Linked DNA regions of Homo sapiens: region 2 is linked to region 1. The links come from fine-mapping of genetic effects on gene expression. A gene starts in region 1. The other region holds a variant in brackets. All regions are shown on one strand. Distances are from middle to middle. Region 1 holds the start of NFILZ (NFIL3 like basic leucine zipper). Region 2 overlaps NFILZ (NFIL3 like basic leucine zipper).

What was found.
Region 2: its variant is fine-mapped to the expression of NFILZ in whole blood (INTERVAL, PIP above 0.99).

The regions. Positions count from the first base shown.
Region 1 is chr19:8,628,911-8,631,818 of GRCh38, reverse strand. NFILZ (NFIL3 like basic leucine zipper) reads right to left here and starts at 1,186. Exons shown (of 6, transcript NM_001378600.1): 1 at 1,075-1,186. RefSeq lists an enhancer at 86-380.
Region 2 is chr19:8,664,589-8,667,496 of GRCh38, reverse strand. The region is part of intron 3 of NFILZ (NFIL3 like basic leucine zipper); the gene reads right to left. Among named protein-coding and RNA genes, the nearest start is that of ACTL9, 33 kb to the left of the region's middle. The variant A/C (reference allele first, on the strand shown) is at 1,447.

The DNA of each region.
Region 1 (2,908 bases):
GGAGTGACCAAGCCCCCAGGGTCCCCATCACTAGAGACGCTTCAAGAGGTCAGCGGGTGTAGACGGAGGAGGCAGAAAGTGAAAGGCCAGGAGGCTGAGAGGCTGGAGCCGCCGCACAAAGGGGCTGGACACGAAGGCCTGGCGGCTGGATGTAGGGGAAGCCAGGCCAGCACTGCCTGTTTACTTTCAGAAGAACAGGGCCAATCTGCGGCCTCCCACTGTGACCCTGGACTCGGGGGAAGAGGGGGCCAAGACTCAGATGTTTGTCTACTGAGCTAATCCCTGGGCTTTGTCCCAGGGGACTCCGCTGCCTTCCCAGAAGACACGCCTGCCTCCAGACCCCCCAGAGATCAAGGGACAGGCACAGAACTCCAGTTCAGAATGCTGCCTCTCTGTTCAGTCCCCCTGTTCATCCCAAGCCCAGCCCCCAGCCCTGCCTGGGCTGACCCCCTCCAGCCTCCCTGTGAGCTCCTAATTTGGCCTGCCTAGAATTTGCAACCCCACTGGGCCACCCCTGAGAGAGCTGTGGGGTGCCAGCCTTGTTCTCAGTGCCCGGGTCCTGGGAAGGGAAAGCAGAGAGGGAGGAGCAGGAGGAAACCTTTGATGCTTAGCCAGAAGTCCCTGCCTGAAATTCCACCATTCAGGCACCCTCTTTGAGTTAAAGCAATGATTCCTGTATCCCTTCCAGAAACCCCTGGTACCCCAAAATGCTACAGAGGAAAAAATATCAAAGGAGTTAAGTAAGTTTGAGAAAGCTGTGCAAAGCACAGGTGTCTATTAAAGGCTCTGAAAAGATCTGCATGAAACGATCCTAGTCAGCTTTGCTTAATCCCCTCACTTGGCCGCAGTTCCATGCAACACGACCCGGGCATCCAAGGCCCCAATTAAAGGCAATCATGAGATCCCAGAAGGGAGATGGAGGTAGTTAAGCTGCAGGGGGAATAAGCTGATCCAACCGGACCTGTGTGGGGGAGAGAGGAGCCTAACCCAGGTCTGCATGCCCTCCTGTGTCAGAGACCAGAAATGTCCCACCCAAGGCATGGGAAGGAAGACTCAGCCTCTCATCATTACCACCTTGCTTCCTGCTCCTTGCTCCTCCTGGCTCTCCAGTCTTCCACCCAAGCCCTCAGGTTCCCCTAGAGCTCTTTCCCACTTCCTAGTCCCCAGCCATGGCAGAGAACTCTGTGCCCACGAACAGGGCTATAATGGAGATATCCCAGGTATTGTCAACCAACAAAGTGCCATGGAGGTGACATCATAAATATCAGTGATAGGCTGGGTGCGGTGGCTCACGCCTGTAATCCCAGATCTTTGGGAGGCCCGGGCAGGTGAATCACAAGCTCAGGAGTTCAAGACCAACCTGGCCAACGTAGTAAAACCCCGTCTGTACTAAAAAGACAAAAAATTAGCCAGGCGCGGTGGCACGTGCCTATAATCCCAGCTACTCAGGAGGCTGAGGCAAGAGAATCACTTGAACCTAAGAGGCAGAGGTTGCGGTGAGCAGAGATCATGCTGTTGCACTCCAGCCCGGGTGACAGTGTGAGACTCCAACTCAAAAATAAATAAATAACTATCAGTGACAGGAGTTTGAAGCTAGTGAATACAATGTTCATGGACACTATGAACACTCTCATAGGTTATTCCTGATGCCACACACCAGTGTGGATTTGAACTGTGCATCTACCACTGAGCAATTGTGTGATCCTGGGGAGTTAAACTCACCAGACCTCATCTGGAAGTTTGTAGTATTTTGTTATAGCAGTCCTAGGTAACTAACATACACTCTCTCCCTTTCTCTCCCTGTTTTCTTTTCTTTAATTTATTTTTATCATTTCTTTCTTTGTTTTTTTTTTATGGAGTTTCACTCTTGTTGCCCAGGCTGGAGTGCAATGGCACAGTCTCGGCTCACTGCAACCTCCGCCTCCTGGGTTCAAGCAATTTTCCTGTCTCAGCCTCCCAAGTAGCTGGGATTACAGGCATGTGCCACCACACTTGGCTAATTTTGTATTTTTAGTAGAGACGGGGTTTTACCATGTTGGTCAGGCTGGTCTCTAACTCTTGACCTCAGGTGATCCACCCGACTCGGCCTCCCAAAGTGCTGGGATTATAGGCGTAAGCCACCGTGCCTGGCCTATCCTTTCTTTCTTTTTATTTATTTTTATCTTTCCTTTCATTTTATGTATTTTTATCTGAGTGAGATAAAGTGTCCAACACCAGGAGATTGTGGGGTTTCTGTGAGATACCAAACCCGGACCCTAGCCTGCCCTTGTGCTGTCTTGTCCTTCTCTGGGGTCTCACATCCTTCCTCTGTCCACAGTCCTCCATGGCTCCCACCTCCTCAGGGTAAAAGCCCAAGTCCTTCCTGCAGCCCACAAGGCCCTTCATGACCTGTCCCTGTCACCTCCCTGTCCTCACCTCTCCCACATCAACTCACTTCCTTCCAGCTGTACACACAGACCCTGTTATGATGCCAGAACAGATAACAAAACAGGCACAGCCCAACCCCAAGACCTTTGCACACGTTGTTCCCTCCACTTAGAATGCTCCTGCCCCAGATCCCCTTGACTTCAATCAGGCCTCTGATCATATATTGCCTCCTCCAAGAAGCCTTCCATGCTTCCATGAACTCCCTCTCTAAAAGAGCCCCCTGGACTGGGTTGAATAGTGTCCCCTCCCCTAAATTCATGCCCATCTGGAACTTGTGAATGAGACTTTATTTGGAAATACAGTCTTTGCAGATGAAATCAACTTAAGATGAGGTCCTCCTGCGTTATGGTGGGTCCTAATCCAATGTGACTCGTGTCCTTATAAGAAGACGAAAATGGCCAGGCATAGTGGCTCACGCCTGTAATTCCAGCACTTTGGGAGGCCAAGGTGGGCAGATCGCCTGAGGTCAGGAGTTCAAGAC
Region 2 (2,908 bases), 36 kb before region 1:
ATGTTAGATTAGAAACTTGAGTATCCATGGATTTTAATATCCAAGGGAGACCCCAGAACCAATCCCCCCCAGATATCAAGGGATGACTGTAGTTCCCAGAAAATCCAAGAGATGGGTTGACTCGTAGAAGGAAAAACTGAGACCCAAAGCTGGTAAAGAATTTATCAAGGTCATATGGGGTTTTAGTGGCAGAGATGGAACTAGAGCTTGGAGCTTAGAATTTAGCAGCCCAAAACCGAGGTCTAACTCAGGAACTGAGCCCTGGAGCCACTTGTGGCTCTCTAAGGGTTGTTTGTGGTTTCCCCTCCCTCTTTCCTGTTTTCTTTTCTTTCCTTGCATTGTAAGGCTGGTGCTGAACTGGACTCCACAGTCCCTCCCTAATAAGGAATGGGGCTTCCATCCCCTGACAGGGCAGGGTGGGACAGTGGGTAGAGAGAGATGGCCAACAGCCGAGCGAGGTGGCTCACACCTGTAATGCCAACACTTTGGGAGGCCGAGGCAGGAGGAACAGTTGAACTTAGGAGTCCGAGACCAACCCGGGCAATGTGGCAAAACCCTGTCTCTACAAAAAAAAAAAAAAAAAAGTTTTCAAAAATTAGCCGGGCATGGTGGTGTGCACCTCTGGTCCCAGCTACTTGGGAAGCTGAAGTGGGAGGATCACCTGAGCCTGGGGAGGTCGAGGCTGTAGTGAGCTGTGATCACACCACTGCACTCTAGCCTGGGCAACAGAGTGAGATTCTGTCTCAAAAAAGGAGAGAGAGATTGACAGAAAGAGAAAGATAAATGGCCAACCCTCTGCTCCTAAATTAGAATTTAATAAAATCTTAATGTCATAAGAGTAATTTATTGAGTGAAACTAAGAGAAATAGCCAATATTGGCCATGGGATACTGACTGAGTGACTTAACCTCTCTAAGCCTCAGCTCCTCATCTATAAAAGGGGTTCAAGGTTATCATCATAGGCAGATGTTGTGAGAACTAAAATGGTAAGATGTGTCTATAAGATATAAGATACCTGGCATAGGCTGGGCACGGTGGCGCACACCTGTCATCTCACACTTTGGGAGGCTGAGACAGGTGGATCGCTTGAGCCTAGGAGTTCAAGACCAGCCTGGGCAACATAGTGAGACCTTGTCTCTACAAAAAAATCAAAAAAAAAAATGAAGCAGGAGGTTGCTTGAGCCCAGGAGGTCAAGGTTGCAATGAGCTGTGATGGCACCACTGCACTCCCACCTGGATGATAGGAGTGACACCCTGTCTCAAAAATAAGAAGAAGAAGAAGATACTCAGCATATCAGCATAGTCTCCTATGAAGACTTGGGGAGTCTTCCTGTGGTTTGCCAACCCTCTTTTTTGAGCCCAAAGACACCCCAGATGAAGATGAAGCTACAGTTACCAGAAGACTCAGAGGCCAACAGAGTACAGAGAAGTTTAAAAGGACAAAAAA[A/C]AAAAGGTGAGAAAAAGAAAGATGAATCAAAGGAGAAGGGAGGAGGCTGCCTCACAAATTCCTCCACCCATGTGGCCAGAGGGTAGCCCACAAGCTTTTCTTTTGCTCTAAGAGAGGAGCTAAAAATGACTGCAAACTCTCCAGCGAGTGTAAGATTTCTTAACACTCAGGCAAAAGGTAGCATTTGCCAGGCCAATGCATGTCTGGAGAAATTGTTTAGGCATGTCGCTTACAAGGGAAATACTCATTTGTTTTCATTTACATGAGATACCAATTTTTCCTGCCGAAATTGGCAAAGATTTCTTAAAAACAATAAAACCTAATGCTAGCAAGGATGCAGTAAGATGGGCACTTGTGTACCTAGAAGGTATACCTTGCTTCCTGGCAAAGCAATTGAGAAATGTGAAATGAGTCAGGCATGAAGGCTCATGCCTGTAATTCCAGCACTTTGGGAGGCTGAGGTGAGAGGATCACTTGAAGCCAGGAGCTGGAGACCAGCCTGGGCAACATAGCAAGACCCCATCTCTCTTAAAAAAATGTTTAAGAAATACAAAACAAATTTGGACTCATACCCTGTTTGAAGAATGAGGGTATTGTTTTTCTGCTACCTGGGTCACTGCTCCAGGCTTTTCTCTATCCCTTTTCTGGCCTTAGTACCCCCTTAGCCCTCCTCAAACACACCACTCCAGCCACGTAGACCATTTTTTACTTCATGAAAGAATGGTCCCTCACCTCCACATAATGTTTCTTCTGCCTGAAGCATTCTTCCCTCACCTCTTCCCTAAGCCAAATCATATTTGTCCTTTAAGACACAGCTTAGATGCTACCTCCTACAGGAAGCCCACCAAATTGATTCCTCTCAGATAGGCCAGAAGCGCCTTCTAGGTTCCCAGGACCCAGTGGGATTCCACCATTGCTGCAGCAATCTCTCTGGGTCTGCCCCTGTGTCCACACATCTCCTGAATAGACAGTCGAATAAATATAAGAGTGTGAGATATTTGGAGAAGGGGGTGTGCTCCGTGTGGTCCAGAAAGCTAGGTAAGGACCACAGAGAGAGGGATGAAGGTGCAGTTTTGAACCAGCATCTGAAAGGATTTTGTAAGAATTCCAGCTCACTAACCAAGCAAGGTTGCCTTGATAGGTAATGAGCTGCCCGTCACAGGGGGTGTGCAAGCAGGGAGTTGGAGACTACTTCTCTAGGTCCAGCTCTCTGCCTTCTCCACCCCTCCTGCCCAGACTTGGGGGGCCTGAGATGAGGAAATTGCTTTCCTCCCCAAGCTGGCTTTCCTCTGACTCAAAAGTCTGCCCAAGGAGAACCAGGGACCCATAGAGGCTATTCCCACGGCCCTGGGCAGCCCAGCCCAGGTTTCTCGGAAGGGCCACATTTCCACGGGGTTCAGGGAACCCAATGGAACCTCGGGGCCCTGCACTCTCAATCTGATGGAGCCCCTGCCTCATAAAA